Regions from separate parts of the Homo sapiens genome. Here region 2 is linked to region 1. The links come from fine-mapping of genetic effects on plasma protein levels. A gene starts in region 1. The other region holds a variant in brackets. All regions are shown on one strand. Distances are from middle to middle. Region 1 holds the start of VSTM2L (V-set and transmembrane domain containing 2 like). Region 2 overlaps VSTM2L (V-set and transmembrane domain containing 2 like).

What was found. PIP is the chance, under the fine-mapping model, that this variant and not a neighbour inherited with it causes the effect. The UK Biobank Pharma Proteomics Project read protein levels with antibody pairs (Olink). The fine-mapping took linkage between variants from a reference panel, not from the people measured, so its PIPs are less certain.
Region 2: its variant is fine-mapped to the plasma level of the VSTM2L protein (UK Biobank, PIP above 0.99). The variant lies in the coding sequence of VSTM2L. If it changes the protein, the assay may bind it differently, which can mimic a change of level.

What each region holds. Positions count from the first base shown.
Region 1 is chr20:37,900,148-37,905,509 of GRCh38, reverse strand. It overlaps VSTM2L (V-set and transmembrane domain containing 2 like), which reads right to left and starts at 2,383. Exons shown (of 4, transcript NM_080607.3): 1 at 2,039-2,383. The coding sequence starts at 2,159. The region is part of intron 2 of LOC124904896 (a long non-coding RNA gene); the gene reads left to right. RefSeq lists an enhancer at 2,120-3,083.
Region 2 is chr20:37,928,751-37,934,112 of GRCh38, reverse strand. It overlaps VSTM2L (V-set and transmembrane domain containing 2 like), which reads right to left. Exons shown (of 4, transcript NM_080607.3): 2 at 2,309-2,478; 3 at 524-574. Among named protein-coding and RNA genes, the nearest start is that of VSTM2L, 28 kb to the right of the region's middle. The variant G/A (reference allele first, on the strand shown) is at 2,325.

The DNA.
Region 1 (5,362 bases):
TCCAGGGTGCAGAGGGGAGATTACAGCTGGTTGGGCAGAGCTGTGCCCCCTCAGCTTACCTGGCACCAGGGGACAGGTAGAGACTGTCACACAAAGGGCAGACAGACCCTGCTTTTCTATGGGGGGGAGCCACCTTGGGGCCTTGGGAATAACAGACTGGCACCCAAGTCCCTGGGGTCTGGTGCTCTAGGGACAGAACGACCATAAGCCTCAGAGTCCCATTCCTCATACCCCTCGGGACTGCAAACTCAGGGAAGGCCCTCCATGGAAACCCCTCCTAGTGTAAGTTCCAACTGTGCCAAGGGACTGAGCGGAGCGAGGAGAGGAGGGGTGGAGAGGGAGGAATTCCCAGTTTCCCTAGAATGGGAGGGAATCTGACAGGGAGATGAATGTCCTGGAAAAAAGCGCTGTCTTTGCCTGACAGACCCTGGGGCCTGTCCTGGCTCAGTCACTCTCTTACTGTGTGACCTTGGGCAACTTCCTTCACCTCTCTGAGCCTTGGTTTCCCTATCTGTAAGTTGAGGATCAAAAGAACCCTTTCCTTATTTACCACCGCTCTAGCCAGGTCGGTAGAAATGAGGTGAGGGGCATGAAGGGTATGTAAATGATGCACACAGCAGTTACTACCAAACATGGTGAGGCAGAAGGGGGCGGGGAGTCATGGTTCCCAAAAAGCAGAGACCCTGAGGATGGCTTCGAAGCCCCCCTCTCCACTGGAGCAATCCCACTCATGTGTCATACCCCAGCAAAACCTTCCCTGATTATCTACCCTGCCTTACCCCCACTCACTCCCATCAGAATAAATCATCCAATTATCTGGCCTTTGTGCAAACCTCCCCACAGCCCTGGGCCCACAGTGCCCAGCACTGGGGCTGCAGCCTCCCCAACAAGGCTGTCAGCCTGTCTAGTGAAGGGCTGCATGGAAGAAAGGTCTCCTTTGGTTTCATCTATGCTCGAGCCTCCATCCCAGAGCCAGGCTCACAGGGGTCAGGGGGAGCCCCCACAGCTGCCGGGCTCATACAGTCCAACTCTGCTGCCAACTTGGGCTCCTTCGGGGCTAGCAGGAGCTTCTGACACTCAGCCAGCCAGTGCTGGGAATGCTTGTCTGCTCCCCGGCTTCCACAGCGGCTGGAGTTGAGATTTCCCACATTTCAGTCCTCTAGGGCCGAGGATGAGGATGGGGGTACCCTATGGAAGGATGGCACGGCTTCCTGCCCATCCCCAGAGGCAGACAAAAGCACCCGGCATTCCACTTCCACTCCCACTCCCATGCCTCTGGCTGCAAGCAGCAACCCCAACTACTCCGGTGGCTCTGAGGGGCTTCCACCAGGTGCCACCCGCCCAACTGGGAGGCTGCAGCCCCAGGCGACCAGTTCTCAAGAAACAAGGTCTTCTGCCCCCAAGGACCTTTCCAGTGGTATAGGGCTGGGTGTGGAGAGGAAGAGGACAAGGGCCTCTGTGCGGTTAAACCCAGAAGAGTAAAGGCAGATGGGCAGAGAGGAGTGGGTGAGCAAATTGTGTTCATGTGTGTGTATGTGTGTGCCTGTGTGTGTGTGCGCGCGCGCGCACCAGTGTGTCTGCAGGTGGGCAGGCAAGAGTTGTGGCGAAGCGTGTGCGCCAGCTGGCAGAGTGAGCCCACCGGCGCAGTGCCTGATGTGCGTGTGTAGTGGGCATAAGTGTAAAGGCTTGCAGTGAGGAGGGGGACCTGAGGTGTGTGGAGATGTGCAGGGTAGGAGTTGTGAGTGTGAGAAAGCAGCGACTGTGGCTCTGAGTGTGTCCGCGGCTGTGCATATCGGTGTGGCCATGCAGGTGTGCGTATCCGCGCGAGTGTGTGGGGAGGAGGTTCGGGGGTGCGCCCCGGGTGCCCCCTTCTCTGCAGGGCCAGGGTGCCAGGGCGGGTCCACCGCGCCGGCAGGGGGCGCCCCGGGATGCCCGCCACGACTGGCGCCGGTTCGAGCCCCGGGGCGGCCAAGTTGGAGTGGCGCGGCCCGGGTTGGGGTTTGGTGGGGAAGTCCGCGGGGGCGGCGACCGAACTCACCGTGGCCGGAGACGTGGTTGTCCCAGGGCGCGTGGCCGGCGGGCCGCGTGGCGCCGCCGAGTTGCAGGAAAAGTGCCAGGTAGTGGAGGGCGCCCAGCGCTACGGCGAGCGGGGCCCCCATCGTGCGCTCTCGGGCCGGGGGCGCCGCCGCCTCACATCTGGGCCCCGGAGACCGCAGAACCGGCGCCAGCTGTCCCCTGCCCTGAGCGGCCTGGCTGCCCGGCTCCGGCAGCTGCCCCTCGCCCGCTGTCCCCGGACCCGGCCCAGCTCCCAGCCCTCGCCCGGCTCCGGCCCAGCCCCGGCTTCGGGGAGCGAGCGCACGCCCAGCCGGCCGCCTCCGACTGCGGGACTCTTCCCTTCCGCGGAAGGCCACGCCGCGCCGCCGCCGCACCCTCCTCCCTCCTCCCGCCTCCCTCCTCCCCTCCCTCCTCCCCTCCCTCCTCCCGCTCGGAGCAGGCGGCGGAGGGATCTGCCGCTTGATTTATCATCAAAGTTTTGCCCAGGCTGGGATTTTTAAAGCGGTACCCGCAACTTTCCCCCGCCCGAGTGCGGAGGCGGGGCCGGGATGGGGCGGAGAGAGCCACCCCAGGGACGCGGTTCCCGCAAAGCACGACCCAACGGGCTTCAGCCACAGAAATGCCGTCCAGCGGGGAGAGGGAGAAAAGCCAGGGCACCCGCCGCCAGGCCAGCGCACTCAGAGGCTCCTAACTTTACCGGCAGGGCGGGGCCGGGGTCAGGGGCCAGTGGGGCTGGGGGTGAGGGCGAGGTAGGGTGGGAGCCTGGGCTGAGACCCAGGGGACCTGGTGATAGCTCTGCCGCCGACCTCGGCTCGCTGTGTGATCGCGTCCGGGTGTCTACCCCTCTCTGAACCTCGAAGTCTTCATCTGAGAAATAGGGGTAATAGCTGTCTGCGGGGGTCCTGGTGAGGATTTGCGAAATCGTGCATGCAAAGCGCTTAGCATAATGCTGCCTACGTGGTAGGAGCTCAGTAGTTATTATTGTCGGTGTTCCCCTTTCTGGGACTCAGTTTTCGAGTCTTTGTAATGGGAGAGAGACAGGCCAGTTAGTTGTTGCGGCTCCTGGCTCTTGAAGATACTGGACCTTATGTGGTGGATGGGATCGCCCCCTTCTGGACTGTAGGCTCCTTCCCTAGACCAATGAGCCTTGATGGTGTGTGTGTGCATGAGTGTGTGTGTGCGTGTGCGTGTGCGCGCGCGTATGCGTGGGTGTATGTGTGTGTGAGTGTGGCAGGGGAGGGGGATAGGGCACCATTCCCATTCCCAAGAGCAAGAATCCAACAAAGTCCTCCAGTTCCTTCCCAAGCCGTGTTACTGGGGCTGATGGGACAGACAGGAGGGCGGAACTGTGGTCCCATTTAAAAGATAAGGAAGCGCCTGAAATCAGGTAATTAGCTTCTCTGAGGTCCCACGGCGAGTCGGGCGAGGCCCCTGACTCCTGGGCGGGGTCCCTCCTGCTCTCATCCCTTGCCCTTCCCCAGGCCTCCCTGCTCACACAGCCTGGTCCTCCCGGTTTCAGCACCACGGAGGAGGACAGCGCCAGCCCCCCCCCCGCCCCCCGCCCCCCGCCCCACCCGGGCCCATCCTTTGGGCACCGTGGACAGCGTCTCAACTGGCCCTTTGATGCTAGGGTTCACACCGTGGACAGACCCTCAGACTTTCTTCCCCGTCCCCGTCGAACAGGGTCAACCCCTCCGACAGCCCACTCCCCACTCCAGAACACAGGTGGATCCCGCGTCCAGCCGTGTGTACAGCGCCCAAGTTTGAGAACAAGGTTAGAGACCAAGGAACATAGCCCCTCGCCGTCTTCCCTCTGTCTTAGCGCCCCCCTTCCAGTATTATGGGGGGGGGGTAGCACACCGGATGGGGCCCGTGGTAGCCAGCAACAATCCAGCTCCTTCCAAACTAAGGACACCTCCTCCACGATGTCCCGCACTTACAAGCACTGTGTTCTAGCACCGTCCACAGCCCCCGCGCTCCCTTCAGTACCGAGGACAGGTCCCAAGCGTCGACCGCTTCCCCCACCCCCCGAACCTTCTGGACCACATGCCTTGGAGGAAGGGGCCGTGTTTGCCTGATTCTCTCACTTCTCACTTTCTTCCCACACAGAGGTGGTGTTTAGGTTATCCTGGGCTGGCCAGGCGTCTTGGACTCTATGCACGTGTTTTCTCATTCATTAACTACCCTGAACCCCGCTCCCAGCGAAATGAACTACTGCTTCCATCATAAAGATATGGAAACTGAGAATCCTCCAGATCACATAGCAGCCACCATGTTAGCCAGACTAAAACCCAGGACTCCTTCAACCCCAGCCTGAGGCCTCACCAGGAGACTGTGGTGACAGAACTGGGACTCAAACCCGGGCTTTCTCCTCTTAAACCACAGATTGGAGGGAGCAGACACAGGCAAGGGGACAGGGAGGGAGAGGAGATTAAAGAGGAGTAAACAAGAGATTGCTCAGGCCTGCAGAGGAAGGGGGTCTGGCGGGATGGCAGCACATTGCTGCTGTGCCCCTAGCCCACCGGCTGACCTTCAGAAATCTTTTCTCTTTGAAGCCTGGAACAAGGTCAAGGTTCCTTCAAGGACAGACATCCAGGGATTGTATGCCTTTGAAAATGCTCGTGATCGGCCAGGTGTGGTGGCTCACGCCTGTAATGCCAGCACTTTGAGAGGCCGAGGTGGGCATATCACGAGGTCAGGAGTTCGAGACCAGCCTGACCAACATGGTGAAATCCCATCTCTACTAAAAATACAAAAATTAGCCAGGAGTGGTGGTGGGCACCTGTAATCCCAGCTACTCAGGAGGCTGAGGCAGGAGAATCGCTTGAACCTGGGAGGCGGAGTTTTCAGTGAGCCAAGATCACACCATTGTACTCCAGCCTGGGTGACAGAGTGAGACTTCATCTCAAAAAAAAAAGGAAAAAAGAAGAAAATGCTCATGATATAATGGTTCTGCTAAAAAAACCCTCTGATGGCCTGTTTATGTGAGAAATCCTGACTTCTCTAGTTTGCATTCAGGGTCCCAGACTCACCTCCTGCACATATCCTGTGCTCTCTTGGGCATGCCTTGGCCTCATTACATCTTCAACCTTCCCAGTGCTTCCCCTGTGCTTGTATGCCTTCCCCTCTGTCTAGCTGAGTCCCCAGTTGGGCGAGGTCCAGCCTGAGTCCCCATGGGAAGAAATGCCTGCTGCCTTCTCCCAGTCCCCAAGCCTCTGTTGGCTCATCACTGTATGCCCAGCATGGCCCTAAGAACTTTCATTATTCCCCTTAATCCTCAGAACCACCAGGCCAGGTAGGGTAGGAT
Region 2 (5,362 bases), 29 kb before region 1:
TGCCCCACCTGCAAAATGGGTGAATGCTTGGCCCTTCTTACAGAGTGTGGCTATTGACAAATGAGTCAATAAATAAGAAGGCCTGGCCAGTCCTGAAATCCTTTGGCTAGGGTGCCCCCACCCCGTCCCCGGGGCCAGATCACCAAGTGACCCTGAGATGGCGTAACACTCAGTCAGTCATGATAGGCCAAAAAAAGCTGGCTCAGGCTCATCAGACCTCATTGGTTCCCCAAATAAAAAATGCTGCTGAGACAAGCACGAAGGCACCAGGATGCACACAGCCTTGGCCCTGACAGGAGAAAATGCATCTTCTCTCCCCTGTCATTTTTTGTGCCCATCATTGAATGAACTTGAAAAATCTCCGGCTTTTAAAAAACAGAGCAAGGCCATTTTTTTCCCTTCTCTTTTTCTTCTCTTCCATCTTCTTGCCCAAGCTCCCTGCTGAACTGGACCCCAATTTTTTTTTAAGTCACAGCTGTGCCCTCCATTAGAGCCCTTTCGAGAAGTCATTATCAAAACTCACACTTATTTTGGTTGCCTCCTTCCCTGCGTCTTCCTGCTGAGATGCTTTTAGCTGTTGGGATCGGGGAGGGGCGGAGAGAGCAGAGACAAGGTGTTAGCACAGGGTGGGGGTGGGGTGGCAGTGTGGGGAGACACATTATAGGGATACGGACAACCGCTAAGATTCTCACGACAGCAGATGAGGCTCGGGGGCCATGGAGTCTGGAGTTGGGGTCCCTTTCTGTATCCACTCAGGGGAGGAGGTGAGGTCAGAGCAAAAGAAGATAATGGAGGTATGTAGAAAACTGACCACATTTGTGCATTTAGATACACAAGGGTGCTTTGGTATATATTGGAGGGAGTGTGAACAGGCAGAAATCTAAGCATTGGCTTGGTATGTTGCTAGGAGCATGTTTGTACCCTTGAGTCACTCTGAGAGTGTGTTTGTACCTTCAGGTGTGTCACCCATGTGAACGTCTGTGCAGACGCTGTGGGAACCCTGCCCACATTCCCCACCTTTGCAAACTGACCCTGGAAGCTTCCAACCGCAGATACCTGCAACGATTTGCCTAAGGGCTTTCTCTGGCCACTGAAGTCCTCTAAGCCTGCATGTGGCAGGGCTGGAAGTGTCAGGGAGCTGACACCCCCAGGAGCAAGACAAAGTTTGATATGCCCTTGGGCACATGTGAGACACTCTTTCATGAACATGGGGAGTGTATGAGTGTGCCAATGCGTGTTTGTGAATGTGTGCAGATATATGTGTTCATATACGAATGGGTGGGCAGATCTCTATGTTTGCGTGTTCATTAGTGTATACATATGTGTAAGGATGCAAATGATTCAGATGGAGTTCCTCCAAGAGCTGACCTTGAGACAAAGGTCAAGTAGTTTATTTGGGAGGTGATCCCAGGAAACACAAGTAGGGGAGAAGGTGAGTGAAACGAAAAAGGGAAGAAAGTTAATAATGGGGGGTATGTTGTTGGTTAGTTACCACAGTAGGCAATTGGAGCTTCGTCCCACTGGGCACTTGGTGAAACAGTGAAGAATATGCTTCGGTTGTCCCAGCTAAGGGCGAGGGAGCTGAGGCATTCATCCTCCAACTTTGCGGGTCATTGGTGGGGGCTGCTCCTGCCTATTGAGTCCCCTGCTCCTCCTGCTTGCCTTGATGGCCAGCAGGCTCTTGTGTCCAGAGAAAACCCTCAAGCAGAGCCAGAGGAGCTGGCAGTTGGCTGGTCCCAGAGCACGCTGCACACCAGGCATGGGGCAGAGCCCCCACAGCATCTGCTCTACAGGTGTGTACATACGAGCATGCACGTGTAGAGGGGTGAGCACATGTGCAGCCAAGGGTGTGCTGGGAGCCTGGTGCACGTATGCGTGTGTGCCTGTGAGTGAACTCAGCATTTGCAGAGCTCTTTATAAAAAGGCTGCCCGTGTGGCCCGGAGAAGTGGTGGGAAGTGAGTCACAAGACCCACCTTGCTCCATAACCTGAAGCCAGCTTGTCCCTCTGGCCTCAGTTTCCTCACCTGTACCCCGAAGGGAGGCCCTCTGTGCCCTGGAAGGCCCTCCTTGCTGTGGCCATTTCACGTGCTCAGCCTAGCTCTGCCTCCTGCCCGTTCCCCCAAATAAGCCTCCATGATCACCTAAAACCCCCACCCCAGGAGGAAGAAGGGAGGGAGACAGCTGTGTGGTGTGGAGAACAGCGTTGGAGCCCATATCCCTCAGAGGAGAAGAGGGGCAGAGAAATACCCCTACCCCAGGGACCAGGACTTCCCCAGCCCAGCTTGGGCATCTCCCCAGGGGCATTACCTGGTTCGAGGCCCAC[G/A]CCTGCTTGTCGGTCCAGTCCCGGTGGCTCCGTACATACCACCACTGGATCTCCAGCGAGTAGGAGGGGGAGCCGCTGCCGCGGAAGGAGCAGGCCATCTCCACGTCCTCGCCCGTCCGTGCTGTCATGTCATGGGGTGTCTCTGTGAACAGGGCTGTGCAAGAAACAGGGGGAAGAATGGCGGGGCTCAGGAAACCACGGGGCTAGTGGGTGAAGGAGGTGGAGAACGTAGGAACAGCTGGCCCTGCACGGCGGGGGATGGGTGGAGGGGGTGGGGTGACCTGCAAGCCCGCTGGTGGGAGTGGTCTGGCTTCAGCTGGGCACCCAAGAAGCTCAGCAAGGCAGGCCAAGGGTGTGTGCAGCAGCCAACATGAGATGGCGATGAGGGAGTAGGTGTCGGCCCTGGAGCCACACCAGCAGCCGGGCGCTGTGGGAGAACATGCCAGGGATCAGAGAAGGCCTGGGCTGGATGTGGACAGCAAGAAGGCCAGGGAGGAGCTGCCGCTTCCATCAGCTCTTCCAGGTTCTTCCAGTAACCCAGCTCAGTTCCCCTCCTGAGTTACTCCAGCATCCATGTACAGCGGCCAGCGCCATCTTTGCAAAACCAAATCAGATGTGGCCTCTCCCCTGCTTAGAACCCTCCCCTGGGACCCCAGGTATGGGGATCAGCACCCATTCCCCTGGCTTCCTCCCTGTCCTGTGGACACGCCTCCCTTTCTGGCCTCACTCTTGCTCTGGCTGTTCTCCTTCTGGAATGCCCTTCCCTCCACCCCTCTTTGCCCGGCTGGCTCCTTCAGATCTGGCAAAGATCAGCTCAAATGTCACCCCCCGAAAGGTCCTCCTTGAGGATCCCGAGAAGGTCCCCCACCTCCTGCCCTGCCCTGTTGCCTGCGGCAGCTCCAGGAGGACAGGGACACAGAGCTCCTGCCGCTGGCAGTTGCGGGCGCAGAGCAGCTGCTCGGCGGATGGAATGGGTACGGAATTCTCCACCATCTCAGGGCACCCAGGGTGAGGTGGGAGCCACTCCTGCCTCCTGCCCCATGCAGAGCCCAGCTCTCCACCACAGCCCAGGGCATACGGTTCCCCTGGCCCAGCAGGAGCCCTGCCCCATCCGTCATCCTCCATCCCACCAGGTAAATGAGAAAACATCCCCACTTCATGTGGCCCAGCGCCCCTCCCCACCATATGTTCTGTCTCCCGTCTCCCCAAACAAATATTGTCCTGAGATGTAATTAGAATTCTTTCCTCTTCTCAGGAGAGATTATCGCCCTGGAAAGACGCCTGGCAACGTGCAGGTCACCCAGGAACATTGTGGCTGTCAATCCCCTGGCCCCCACCCTGTCCCTCCTGGCTGCTGCAACCTAACAGGGTCCCCTGGCCCAGAGGGGCAGATTCCCAGCCCCGGGAGTCCTCACCACCCCAGCTCAGCTTAGGGAAGGAGGAAGAGGGAGTCCTGGGCTAGGAGGTGAAATCCTAGATTCAGGCCCCTGCTCTGGGGCCACCTCTCTCATCCCCCTGTCCCCAGGATACCGAAGGTGATGCGAATTGACAAACGACTCCATCTGGAAACTTCTGCCGTTTCTCCTCTGCTCATGGGGTTTCCATGTGCAGCCCTACTTGAACAGTGGGTTTCTGGGCTGAGAGCAAGTTTGAGATGTCCCTAATCCTCAAGGTCAAGGGTTTAGAAAGCAGCTCATGGAGGCTCCCCGCTTGCTGAGGCTTGGAAGTCCCAGCCGCTGTTCTGTAAACAAGGCCTGGTTAGTTAATAGGAATAAATGTCTGAGTTCCTGAACATTTGCGAGGGATGGTGTGGGGCGCCATCACACATAGCCCACTTCAAAGCTGTGACCCTTCTTATCCCCACTAAGTAAGAGGCAATGCAGGCACCTGGAAGGAAGATCCCTCCCCCACATCACCGTGAGGGCCACCCCCTCCTTCCAGGGGATCAACCCAGAAACTAGTCACCCTGGGCTCCCTCCCTCCACTCTCCCTTCCCACATTCAGTCTTCAAGGAACCCTGTGGGTCCTGCCTCCCGACACCTCCAGAATCTGGCCCCTTCTCCCCACCTCCACTGCCTTCCTGGGGCCAAGCTGCCATCCTCTCTCACCTGCAACAGTGGGGAACCCTCACTGGCCTCCCGCTTCCACTCTTCCTCCCCAACAAGCTATTTTCACACAGCAGCCAGACGTACCTTGACAAAACATAAATCATCCCTGTCCCTGCTCTACTCACCACTCTCCCAGGGCGTTCTCCTACCCACAGTAACAGCCACAGTCCTCACTGCCTCTGCTTCCCAAAGTGCTGGGATTATAGGTATGAGCCACCATGCCCAGCTAAAAGGATTGCTCGTGCCCAGGAGGTCAAGGCTGCAGCAAGCCTTGAACGCACCACTGCACTCCAGATGGCTGACAGGGCCTTCCATGGGAGGCCATTCCCTCCAGTGTTGGCCTCTGCCTGACTCCCTGCTCCTACTCCTGCCACAGTGGCCTCCTTTCAGCTCCTTCCCCAGGCATCCCAGTTGAGATTCCACCTCAAGACCTTTGCACCTGCTGATTCCTCTGCCTGGAACACCCTTTCCTCAGACTCCCCTGGAACTGCCTTCCCTCACATGGCTCCCTCCCTCTCCTGCCACAGGACCCTGCTCAAAGTCCGCTTCCTTAGGGAGGCCTGCCCTGACCACCTCATTTAAACCCGGCACTTCAAACCACCCTTCCCTCCAACGCCATCATCAGCACTGGCCAACAGGACTTTCTGCCATGAGGAGGGTGTCCTGTAACTGAGCTAGTACAGTAGCTAGCAGTCACCTGTGTCTGCTGAGCACTTGAAATGTGACTGAGGACCTGAATTTTAAATTTTATTTAATTTTAATTCATGTAAACATAAATGTTAATAGCCACTTGCAGGTAATGGCTATTGTATTGGACAGCACAGCTAATATGCCTATTTTATGTATGTTTATTGTCAGCCTTCCCTCCCAGCTCCTGCAGCAGTACCTGGCACATAGCAGGTGCTCAATAAATACATTTTATTTTTGAGA